3 linked regions of the Homo sapiens genome follow. The protein of the gene in region 1 interacts with the protein of each later gene in a biochemical or structural test. Each region holds a gene or a part of one and is shown on either strand. Other genes may lie near its edges. The genes, in order: SLC8A1, S100A5 and S100A7.

Region 1 (3,616 bases):
GTGAATAGTGCCGCAATAGTGGTGGGGTGGGGGGAGGGGGGAGGGATAGCATTAGGAGATATACCTAATGCTAAATGACGAGTTAATGCGTGCAGCACACCAGCATGGCACATGTATACATATGTAACTAACCTGCACATTGTGCACATGTACCCTAAAACTTAAAGTATAATAATAATAAAATAAAATTAAAAAAACAAACAAATGTATAAATCTTTTTACTAAAAGTGATAATTCAAAAAAAAAAGAAAAAAGAAAAAGAAACTAGCATCAGAGTGAACAAGCAACCTACAGAATGGGAGAAAAACTTTGCAATCTACCCAATCTGACAAAGGTCTAATATCTGGAATCTACAAGGAACTTAAATTTACAAAAAAAAAAAAAAAGAAAAAACATCAAAAAGTGGACAAAGGATATGATATGAACAGACGCTTATCAAAAGAAGTCATTTATGCAGCCAACAAACATATCAAGAAAAGCTCATCATCACTGATCATTAGAGAAATGCAAATCAAAACCACAATGAGATACCATCTCACACCAGTCAAAATGGCAATTATTAAAAAGTCAGGAAACAATAGATGCTGGTGAGGCTGTGGACAAACAGAAATGCTTTTATACTGTTGATGGGATTATAAATTAGTTCAACCATTGGGGAATACAGTGTGGCAATTCCTCAAGGATCCAGAACCAGAAATACCATTTGACCTAGCAATCCCATTACTGAGTAAATACCCAAAGGAACAGAAATCATTCTACTATAAAGACACATGTACACATACGTGTATTGCAGCAATATTTACAATAGCAAAGACTTGGAACCAACCCAAATGCCCATCAACGAGAGGCTGGATAAAGAAAATTTGGTACATAGACACCATGGAATACTATGCAGCCATAACAAGGAGTGAGATCATGTCCTCTGCAGGGACATGGACGAAGCTGGAAGCCATCATCCTCAGCAAACTAACATAGGAACAGAAAACCAAACACCACACGTTCTCACTCATAAGTAGGAGTTGAACAATGAGAACACATGGACACAGGGAGGGGAACAACACACACTGGGGCTTTCTGAGGGGTTGGGGGCAAGGGGAGGGAGAACATTAGGACAAATACCTAACGCATGCAGAGCTTAAAACCTAGATGACAGGTTGATAGGTGCAGCATACCACCATGGCACATCTATACCTATGTAACAAACCTGAACACTCTGCACATATATCCCAGAACTTAAAGTAAAAAAAGAAATCCATAATTATTAACTCGAATAAATGGCTATGGAAGTAAAAATGTGACTATAAAACTAAGTAACAGAGGACTTCACCTACCAGAGTATTAGAAAAAGTTCAGCTGAAAAATAACATCTAAGCTGAGATTTAAAAGACATTCTGCAGGAAACCAGCCAAAAGGTTGTTGAATTGTAAGGTCTTAGGTGGACACTTTTGTAATTACCCTTCTCTGTAACAGGATTATTCACAGACGTACCTTCTTAGATATGCTGGGGTATGAGATCATGTTTGGAAGGGACAAAAAGTAGCTTCTATAATTTATACAAGACTTTTTCTCTCTGAGGTCAGAGCCATGCAACTGCATTTAATTGCATTCTACCACACTTATAGGGTCAATGTGGTAGATGGAAGGTTCACTGGTCTAGGGACTAAAAGAAATGAGTGCTGGTCTCAGCTCTACTGACCAGTCATATGTCCTTGGAGAAGTCATTTTCCCTCTCTTAGTATCATCTGTAAAACTGGGAAATTCTGCTAACAATCTGCAGCTGTGATATTCGAATCCTACACTTTGGCATTCAGTGCCATCTATAATATAACACCTGTCCATCTGTGCAGGTTTACTGTTAGTCAATATATCAGCTAGTAGTCAGCTGAGCTACTAAATGAAAATTACCCAAATATGTACCACATCATCTTTTCTAATGCTTTGATGGTTATCTTCCATGACCCATCTCAAATGTCAAATTTCCCTTATAAAACTACTTTGATTGCTAGGAAGGCCCTTAAACGTCATCTAGGCCAGGTACAGTAGCTCATGACTATAATCCCAGCACTTTGGGAGGCTGAGGAAGAACTGCTTGAGCCCAGGAGTTCAAGACCAGTCTGGGCAACATAGCAAGACCCCTGTCTCTACAAAAATAAAATTAAAAAATTAGCCAGGCACAGTGACATATGTCTGTGGTCCCAGCTACTCAGGAGGCTGAGCCAGGAGGATTACTTGGGCCTAGGAGGTAGAGACAGCAGTGAGCCATGATCATGCCACTGCACCCCAGCCTGGGTGACAGAGTGAGACCCTGTTTAAAGAAAAGTAAAATTAAAAAGTCATCTGTCTCCCTAGCCCCCACCTTTCCCAGTAAGAAAACTTGGGGCCTGATAACTGAAAGAGACATTTCAAACCCAAATATCTCAGAAGTGATGGAGCTGGGCTCTAAAACAAATTCTGTGAATTTCTAGGCCATTTCTCTTCACACTACACCAACACCAATTGCTAGGATTCCCCAAGCCCATCAATGTTTCATTTGCGTCTCTCATAATCTATACTGTGTGTGTCAAGAGTTGGCAAACTATGGTTAATGGGACATAGTCAACCTCCTACCTGTTCTCGTAAGGCGCACAAAATTAAAATGTTTCTTACCTTTTAAAATTACTGGAAAAAAAAGAATATTGCATGATGTGAAAATTATGTGATATTCAAATTTCAGTGTCCACAAGTAACATTTTATGGAACACAGCCGTGCCCATTCATTTATATATCATCTATGATTGCTTTCTTGCTATAACACCAGAGTTGATAAATTATGACAGATCCTATAGTTCACAAAGCCAGAAATACTGACTATCTGGGCATTTAAAAAATCAGCTCTCTGATCTTCGGTATATGCCATTTTGCGTGTACTTATCTTCCTTTACCTTCCTGTGGCAACCCCTTCACCACACCAATCAGTGTATTCACCTGGGGGCACACAGGCAGGAACAAGGCTCTCTCTCACCATTTATATCTTCAGTAATGAGCTAACAGTTGCTGAGCACCCATGTGTCAGAAACTGTTCCAAATATTTTACTAATATTAATTTATTACTCCTCACACAAAACCACAAGCCTTTTTAATATTTTTATTCCCATTTAATAGATGAAGAAAGTAAACACGGAAAAGGCTAAGTAATTAGCACAATGTCAAATATGCCATCTTTTGAATTCAAACGAATGTTATAACTATCATGAATATGTCTGCTGACCTCAGAGACCTTTAGTCTGAGGACCCTAGGTTGGTTCATTTTGTTAGTCAGTATTCTCAAACTAGATGAAAAGTCGTAGTTCCCTTTCCACCCTGAAGAATCCTTATTAGACATTCAGGAATTCCTGAGGCCCAGAAAACACAGGCAAATTTCTGGAGGCTTTCTACACAGGGAAAGAAAAAGAAAAAGAAAAAGAGGTAACTTGGATGAAATGATTTCAGAGTCATAGAACTGGATTCTACTATCTCCTATTTCAGTCTTATAAAATCATTTAATTTTACATGGCCTCCATTTGCTTATTTGTAAAATATAAACACAAAGCAAAACTAGGTGATATCAGATGTCTCTTCCAGTGCTAGCCATGGTATG
Region 2 (4,409 bases), on another chromosome or scaffold:
CAAGTCTCTGAGTGACTCTCTCCCCATTCTAAGGACTAGGTGAGAATAACCCCGGACAAAATGTCTCTCAATGAGAGCAGTGCACTGGGGCTGTGAAGCCACTGCATCCCTCCCCTGCTAGGAGAGCTGTGCAAGAGGCCTGCCTGGAGCCTGGTTGTGCACTGTTGTTCAGTCCCCTGATGTCCCAGCCTGGCTCCATTAGGACGATGGAGTCAGGGTCCTTTGGGTGGAACAGGAAGAAAATATAGACAAGCAGATCCTGATGTCTCCTCATCATTGCCGTCAGCTACAGGTTTTCACAGGAGACATTGGGACTTACAAAGGCGGAAACTGCTTGTCTGTCACGTGATCCTAGTCCCCAGCCTGGGCTCCTGTTATTGCCAGGCCCTCCTCTGGGCGTCTCTCCTTCTGTAATTAATCCCTGCTGGACCTGTGGCCCCTCCCTCTGCCCTCATTAACCTCCAGGATGCAGGCAGCCTGGCAGAAGGCCAGAGATCAGGCCTGGGGACGCCCATACCTGCTTCTGTCCCCTGCCCATGTGGCACACTGTGGACCTTCTTTCTGGGAGGGCCTACCAGGGCTCAAGGTGTGATAGATGGAGAGGCACCCAGGCTAAATTTTAAAGGAAACAGGGAGGATGATTCACAGGCCTGGCCCAGAACTCCAGCTCAGCCTCCCACTAGCGGATTGTCCTTAGGCAAGTTATTTGATGTATTTGAGCATTGATTTTTTTTAACTATAAAAATAATAAGACTAGGCACAGTGGCTCATGCCTGTAATTTCAGCACTTTGGGAGGCTGAGGCGATAGGATCATTTGAGGCCAGGAGTTCAAGAACAGCCTGGGTAAAATAGTGAGACCCCATCTCTACAAAAAATTTTAAAAATTATCTAAGCGTGGTGGTATTTGCTTGTAGTCCTAGCTTCTCAGGAGGCTGAGGTAAGAGGATCACTTGAGCCTGAAAGTTCAAGGCTACAGTGAGCCATGATCGCACCACTGCACTCTAACCTGGGTGACAGAGTGAGACTCTGTCTCAAAAATATTTATCCTTGGCCAGGCGCAGTGGCTCACGCCTGTAATCCCAACACTTTGGGAGTCCGAGGCAGATGGATCACGAGGTCAGGTGTTCGAGACCAGCCTGACCAACATGGTGAAACCCCCATCTCTACTAAAAATACAAAAATTAGCTGGGCGTGATGGTGCGTGCCTGTAATCCCAGCTACTGAAGAGGCTGAGGCAGGAGAATCGCTTGAACCTGAGAGGCGGAGGTTGCAGTGAGCCAAGATCATGTCACTGCATTCCAGCCTGGGTGACAGAGCGAGACTCTCTCAAAAAAAAAAAAAAAAAAAAAAAAAAATATATATATATATATATATATATATTTATTTATTTATTTATCCTCGGGGATATTGTATTATAATAACCTCATGGGCCTTCCCCTCTGTCAGTCACCTCCCTCCCACCACCTCCATCTGGTGAGAACCAGTTCTGTCTCCTCACTACCCTATGTTTACAAGTTAACCTTTCAGTTTGAGTGCCAGCACCATCAGAGAGCCCTGGCCATGCTGTGCACACAGAGAAGAATCAGGCAGAGTCCCTACACTTGAGTTGTACACAGCTGGACCTGGACACCCTGCATCCCTTCACCACCCATGACCCCTAGCACAGGTTCTGCCACTGCTGGGAGAGCCTGGCCCCACCATCGAAGGCTCCTCAATCTCCTTCTCTAAACCCTCCAGACTCAGCCCTTCCTCCTTCTCAGTGAGACCCTGACCCATTCTCCTTCACAGAGGGCTAGAGTTTTGCTGGCCCGAAATCCCCACCATCTTCCTTTGTCTCTGTCTGTAGCCCTTGGCCACCCTGCCCCTGGCTTAGGCTGGAGGATCCTGAGGGTAGGTATGTGTCCCCCAGAGGGAGTACTCAGACTTTGGGGTGGAGGATGAGGGAACAATCACCTACCTCCCCAAGACACAGCTCTTTCTTGATCAGCTCCTTGAGTTCCTTCCTACTCAGGGTCAGTTTGCTACCCTCTCTCCCCGAATATTTGTGAAACGTGGTCACCATAGTGGTCAGGGCCTTCTCCAGAGGAGTCTCCATCACAGTGTGCAGCTCTGTAGAGGGAGAGGGGAAGATCCCATTCCTCAGGAAGTCACCACCAGCAGCACTAGCCTACCTCTGAGGCCCCTCCCTCAAAGAACAAGAGACTGGAACCCAGGATGAGACTGAAATCCACTAACAAGAGCGCCCATCTATATCAGTACAGGTTACAATGAGACCCACAACAAACTCTGGAGCTGCTGGTACAAGGAGAACAGCAAGACCCCAAAGGAGACCACAGACTCTCCTGCTGGGGAGTTGTTGAAAAGTAGGCCTGAGGCAGAAAGATGAGAAGACGACCTCCTCAAAAGGCCCTGGTGGCAGATGGTGGAGCAGATCAAGGGTCACGATTTTCTCTCTGCTTCTTCCAGCTTAGGAACTGGTTTTCCACAGGCAGTTCACCAGCCTTTCCCCCAGTGCCTGAATCACCTGATATCGAGGAGTGTCCCATTATTAAAGTCGGGGACAGGGCAAAGAGAGAGTCCAGGGCTGAGAGGGGGCTGGGCTGGAACTGGGTGATGGGGTCTCAACAAGGAGCAGCAGGGAGGTGAGCTGAGCTGGCCCAGCTGGTCTCCAGACTCTGGCCCAGAGCAGTGCACACAGAGACGGGTCAGCGGGCAGGGAGGGCAGGGGGCCTCTTGAAATCTCCAGGATCATTCCAAAACCTGGATCCAGAGGCTACGCTTGAATAAGGGCCTGGATTCCAATAGCACAGCCACCCTCAGCCAAGGGAAGAGACAGATGGAGCTCAAGTGACTCAGACTCAAAAACCACTTCCCCCTCAGGGAGGAAGGAGGCAACACCCACGGAACTTGAAGGCTGCAGGTTAAATCTGTGGAGAGTCTTCACCTCCAGCCCAAAGCCCTCCCTGCCATTCTTGAACCAGACCCATCATTCCTCTCCCACCACAAAAACCTCAGCCTCTCCCACCTCAAGGAGACTCAGCTGGGACCACAGTTGAAGGCAAGGGACTCTGTGCACCTGCAGGAGCATCCTGGCTAGTCCAGACCCCCACCTCCACCCCAGAGCCATTTCTCAAGAAATTCCAAAGGCTCTGCCCTCTTCTCCCTGAGCGCATGCCCGCTTGTGGGGCCAGGCCTCCTTGGTGGAGGTCACCACCACTTGTCACCCTCATCATCCAGCGTGACCCACCAGATATCAGATGAACAGAGACATAGGAAGGAAGGACTTACCACTGTGGGAGTGAGCCCAGAGAATCCAAGCAGCAGGCATAGCCTCCCTCTCACTGCCTTCTGCCTTTATTTCCCTGATCTCTGTCCCTAGGAATCCAGGGGAGAGAAAGGGCCCATGAGAAGTTGTTGGGGACTTGAGGATGCCCACGTCAGAGCCTCCCGGGATGGAGCTGGGGAGAAACCCCTTCTGCCAATCTCACCTTCCTTGTTTACAAACAAGGGCTGGGGACACACTGAGTTCCCATAGCACACACGTCCCCAATCCCAGAAACTTTACTCTTCTGACCAAAAATCAGAACTCAAAATCTGAAATCTGATGGAACAATAAGCCGAAGAAGGGAAACCAGGCTGTCCTGGAAAGAAAACCTCAGAAGTGTGGGACAAACACAGGGCACCATCTCCCCGTGTCCTAGGAAGCTCTCCACATCGGGCCCCTCCCACCCATCCTGCCACCCACTCCAGGAGTAGAGAAGACAGCCCTTGAGATGGGGATCAGTGGAGGAAGATATTTTCTGCGAAGGATATGGTCAAGGTCATGAGCTAATATGGGCCCAGAGGTTTTTAAAGGGCTTTTAAATGAACGATTTCTTCTAGGCCTCACTGCTCTTCACAGGAAAGGCTCGTCGGAGACTCTTGGCATGGAGGACTGAGAATCAGGAATAGGGAAGGTGTCCAGCGAAGGGCTAAGGCCCAGCACTGGGGTAGAGGTTGTGGATTGGGGAGGGGGGTTCAGGTTCAGGCTGCAGTCAAGGAGGAAGTAGGGGCCAGGGAGAGTTTCCTGTATCCCAGGAGACACTCAGACATCGTTCTACCACAGTAGAACAACATACTTCTACCACCAGTCCAAGAACAGACCTGGGCTCAGGGTGTAGTACCTATCACTGCTGCAGTCCCACCCCAGCCTGGGGGGCCTCCCCACTGCTCCCCACTCCACCCCACCCCCAGCTGGCAAGATTGGAGAGGCAGCAGGGATTGGTTGCTATGCAGTAGGCATCTCTGAAGGAGAGCGTGACCTGGGTGGAGGCCCCAGGGAGGGCGCTCCCAGGGAGGGTGGATGGAGAGGGCAGCGGAAGGCAGCAGACTTTCTCCTGAACTGAAATTCCTCCCAAGTCTCTGTATT
Region 3 (4,357 bases), on another chromosome or scaffold:
AGGGCGCTGCTCCATGGCTCTGCTTGTGGTAGTCTGTGGCTATGTCTCCCAGCAAGGACAGAAACTCAGAAAAATCAATCTTCTTATCCTCATTCTTGTCCTTTTTCTCAAAGACATCGGCGAGGTAATTTGTGCCCTTTTTGTCCTGTGAAGAGAAAAACATACAAAATAGAAAAATTCAATCACAAACAAGTTTTGGGCTGGGAGGGAGAGGAGGAGGCAGAGATACAGACAAGTACCTAGATCTGCACAGGCATGGTGGCGGGGCTGAGAGCACAGGGTGAGTGGGTGAAGTTGGGGTGAGGACGTGAGTGTTATCCCTGGAGTTCTCTAGGGAGTCTTTTTGTCTCACACCTCAGGATGGGAGGCAGGTCCTGTCCCAAGGTGCTCTGTTAAGTGACCTTGGGGAGAGCAGTCCCCTGCCCCAGCCTCACTCTTTCCCGTCCCAGCCTCTAAGGGCACTGCCTACCTTAGTTCTACCCCAGGGCCTCAAAATTGGCCCTCATGCTTTTGTTCTCTTCTTTCTCTGGCCTCCTCTCCTTTCTTCTCCTTTTCCACCAAACTCATCTTCTGGGTATCCTACTCTTGGTCATCTAGACCCTTTGGTACCTAGTAGCCCACAGTTTTTTTTCAGATTTGCTAATGAGTCTTGTTTATTGCAAAGAGGGCTATTGATTTCTACTAACAATGGAACTTCTAGTGCTTTCCCAGTAATCTCAGGGATGTTGATGTGGGGCCTTTGGGAAACAGGACCTGAGCATGTGAGTTTCAGTCTCACAGAGAGAGGGTCAGTGAGTGCTGGGAGGGGACTGTGCACTGCCCTCAAGCTGCACACTTTGCTGACCATCTAATAACCTCCTTTATATCTGTATAACTCTTTCCCATTTTCATACTTTTTTGCCTACCATCCTTAGATTCACATATGATCCAAGTAATAAAGCCCTATTTGCAAATGGGAAATTTTTTAATCAGAGGGTGAGGGTGATCTGTCCAAGGCCACATAGCAAAATGTATCCTCCAACATTGAGAAGCTAGACACCGACTCACACAGGCACTAAGGAAGTTGGGGAAGTTCTCCTTCATCATCGTCAGCAGGCTTGGCTTCTCAATCTTGTCATCACGTCTGGTGTATTTGTGAAACATGTCGATCATGCCTATTATGGACCTCTCAGCTTGAGTGTTGCTCATCTTTGCTTTCAAAAAGCCTTCAGGAAATAAAGACAATCATTTTTTTCCCTTCATTTAAGTTAGGGTCTCTATTTGGGAGTGCTGGAAGGAGGGCTGAGGACAGAGTAAAAACACGGATAAGGTGTAGCAGAACGAACTCAATTTTTTTTTAATGTGATGGGATAAGTTGCTCAAAAATGAGAGGGTAGGACCAAGTCTGAGACCTGGCCCATCCTGGCCAGGGCCAAGAGGAGATGCAGGTGGATGGCGGAAGTCCAGCTGTGGACAGTGCTTCAGAGAGGGAGAAGCAGGGAGAGTCGGGCGCCAGCAACACATGGAAGAACTAAGCTGGGACACCCCAGCCTCAGCCAGCACATGGCAGACCCCACTCTTAAAAGAGCACCAAATCCATCTCCTCCAGCTTCACAGTCGGGGTGACAGTCATGGGGGCAGGACAATGGCCTTGGTGATCTGGTGTCTGACCCTCCTCGGCTGCTTCAGGAACCAGACACCGTGGGCCCCACCTTGACTCAAGTGCAAGCCCTGCATGACACGGTGTGTGCAGGCTCCAGGTGCACATGTGAGCGTGGACGTGAGTGTTAGCAGGAAACACAGTCCTGTCCCGAGCACAGGGGGCCCTTCTTGTATTCCCTTGGGAACGAGAAACAGGAATGGCCTCTGTTACAAGGAACAGAAATAACTCTCTGGTTCTTAAGCTGCTGGACGGGGTGGGAGTGAGGTGGGAGTCACTTCATGTCTGCTCTTGGGAATTATCTGCACCCTCTGAATCACCAAGCCTTGACTGTTTAAATAAAAATGTCTGACTTCCCAAAGCAGATCTTTCAGCCAGTAGTCAGTCTGGGCTGGCCTGCACCCCAAGCCTGAAAAATAGGACAGTGCAGTTCTCACTTCCCACACTTTCCAAAGAACCAGGAAAGGACCTTGGCTAATGCATATGGGTGTCTGACAATAAACCCCCAACACCTCTCAATGCAGGAGAAAGCTCCATGCCGGCAACTGACTAAGAGGAGCCACCCAGAGCTTTTTTGAATCTGAGGCCAAGGCCAGAGGGCAAGCCCTGTGCCCAGAGGGTGACTGACAATTTGCAGGTTGTGGTAGGGAGTGACGGAGCGTTGGTTTCTCAATACCTTACCCAGGTAGGGGCAAGCCATCTGGCCAGGGCTATGCTGTGTCGGGGTCCCAGGCCTGGGGGTTTGGAGAGCCTCCAAAGCATTCACAGGGGACCCCTAGCCCTCCACCCTCTGTGGAGCTGGAGCTGGGGAGGGGATTTAGCAACCGGGACCCCAACAGGAGGATGAATCCAGGGAGGAAGAGGACAGGGAGGGTCCTGTGCTCAGGTCCCACTGGGGACATTTCCACAGGAGTTGCCTCAGGAGATCCCAAAGGAGCAATGGACAGGTCTGGTTCAGCCACCTGGTTATACAGACGTGGGCTTTTGGGGTCAAGTGAAGGTCACACAGCCCAGCTAATGGCAGAGCTGGCCTAGACCCAGGCTTCTGAGTCTTTGTCCACAGCCCTTTCCCTTCCTACAGGCAGCATGGCAGGCCAGGCACTGGGCACTTCTAGAAAACGCAAAGAGGCAGGTGAGACTTACCAGAGCTGGGAAGCGTCACGAGTAGAAGGATGAGTGAGATGTGTGTGTTTGGACAAAGAGCAGTCCTTTATAAGGCTCAGCCTGGCTCTTCCCAGGGGCTGGGAGGCCTGGGGCCACCTCTGTCATCTGTTTCTTGGAGGCTTGCCCCACATCAGGTGGGTGGGACACACCCAGGAGGCTGTGCTCAGGATTTCTGGCCAGTGTCCCAGGTCACCAGGTCCCACCCCACCCCAGAGACCTCACCTGGAGTCTTCTCTGGCTCAACCTTGATTTGAGGGTAAGGCAGCGGTACATGTGTAGTAGCAGGTCAGAAAATGGGAGAAAAGAGCACTGGGCCTCTGGACCCAAAGAGGATGGAGTTTCAGACTCCTGAAGGCAGCATGGTCTTGTTTGTTCCCTCCCCTTATCCTTCCACACATTTGTTATGACAGCCTGTTCTATGACCCCCACCGCTGACTGAGCATTTTAATGTCTAGATATCAAGATACCTGCTGCTCCTGCATCCTCCTCAACCCTCATAGTCCTAAGAGGTGCTTCAATCTCTATTTTAGGAAAGGAGAAGTTGAGATGTTCCCAAGTTTACTCAGCTAGTAAACACAACAAATCATTATATGGACTCAGAAAAGCCTGAATCAAATCCTTACTCTTATCCCCTGTGCTATAGGTCTTGGGTCACATCAGGGTCTGCCCTATGGGAACTCAAAGTCCAGGGAGGGAAGCAGGGTTACTTCATTGCTAACCATTGGTCAGCCCCTCACAGAAGCCCTGGAATTAGGTGGGGGGACTGGGGTCAGGGGCCTCACTATCTAGGTTGAGTGGTGGAGTGACCCCCCCATGGAATGAGCCTGGAGGCAGGGAGTGGGAAAAGTTCTTTCCTGCCCCATGGCACTAACTTCCCAGAAAGTCTTCAGTGTTTTTCCTCCTCCTATGCAAAACAGCCTGTGTAGGAGTTGGGAGTTGTGCCCTTGGCTATAATGTGCCCTAACCTGCTGTGGAAAGGCTGACCCAGGTAGGGGCAAGAGGGTTGGGAAGGCATGGGAATCCCTGGGGCATGGTGAGGAAAGGGAGATGATGAATCACTGAAATGGACTTTTTCTGCTACCCCCTTGCAATGTTCCTTTTAGGGTGCAAGAGAGTTCCAGGTTCATTTAGTGCCAGCCCTTTAAGCACTCTGGGGCTCCACAGAGCTGATGTGATGTCTCCCTAGGTGGGACCTATTTTCTCCACCCATCATCTTTCTTCAACTTCCTTCTCGTCAGTACCTATGTAACCAGGGGGACCTGTTTCTCCCTCTCCCAGTTCCCCATGTGATGGCAATATTACTTTTAACAGCAAAAGATACATACACACACACACAGTGGAATGCTACTCAGCTATAAAAAAAGAATGAAATCACGCTTTTTGCGGCAACATGGATGGAACTGGAGGCTATTATCTTAAGTGAAATTACTCAGAAAGTCAAATACTGTGCAACCTCATGTGTAAGTGGGAGCTACATCATGCATACAGATGGAGGTAGAGAGTAGAATCATAGACACTGGAGACTGTGAAGGGCAGCAGGTGAGGCGGTGGGTG

What was found.
Region 2: the proteins of SLC8A1 (region 1) and S100A5 interact in a biophysical measurement, tested with the Homo sapiens proteins (one large-scale study listed by IntAct).
Region 3: the proteins of SLC8A1 (region 1) and S100A7 interact in a biophysical measurement, tested with the Homo sapiens proteins (one large-scale study listed by IntAct).

Annotation. Positions count from the first base shown.
Region 1 is NC_000002.12:40,442,027-40,445,642, forward strand, and holds part of SLC8A1 (sodium/calcium exchanger 1 isoform A precursor), read right to left. Parts: intron 1-3,616. UniProt on the Homo sapiens protein: Mediates the exchange of one Ca(2+) ion against three to four Na(+) ions across the cell membrane, and thereby contributes to the regulation of cytoplasmic Ca(2+) levels and Ca(2+)-dependent cellular processes.
Region 2 is NC_000001.11:153,538,096-153,542,504, forward strand, and holds the start of S100A5 (protein S100-A5), read right to left. Parts: upstream 2,840-4,409; 5' UTR 2,526-2,839; exon of another isoform or gene 2,111-2,525; coding exon of another isoform or gene 2,097-2,110; coding exon 1,959-2,096; intron 1-1,958. UniProt on the Homo sapiens protein: Binds calcium, zinc and copper. One subunit can simultaneously bind 2 calcium ions or 2 copper ions plus 1 zinc ion. Calcium and copper ions compete for the same binding sites.
Region 3 is NC_000001.11:153,457,826-153,462,182, forward strand, and holds the start of S100A7 (protein S100-A7), read right to left. Parts: upstream 2,827-4,357; 5' UTR 2,783-2,826; intron 1,206-2,782; 5' UTR 1,189-1,205; coding exon 1,048-1,188; intron 146-1,047; coding exon 1-145.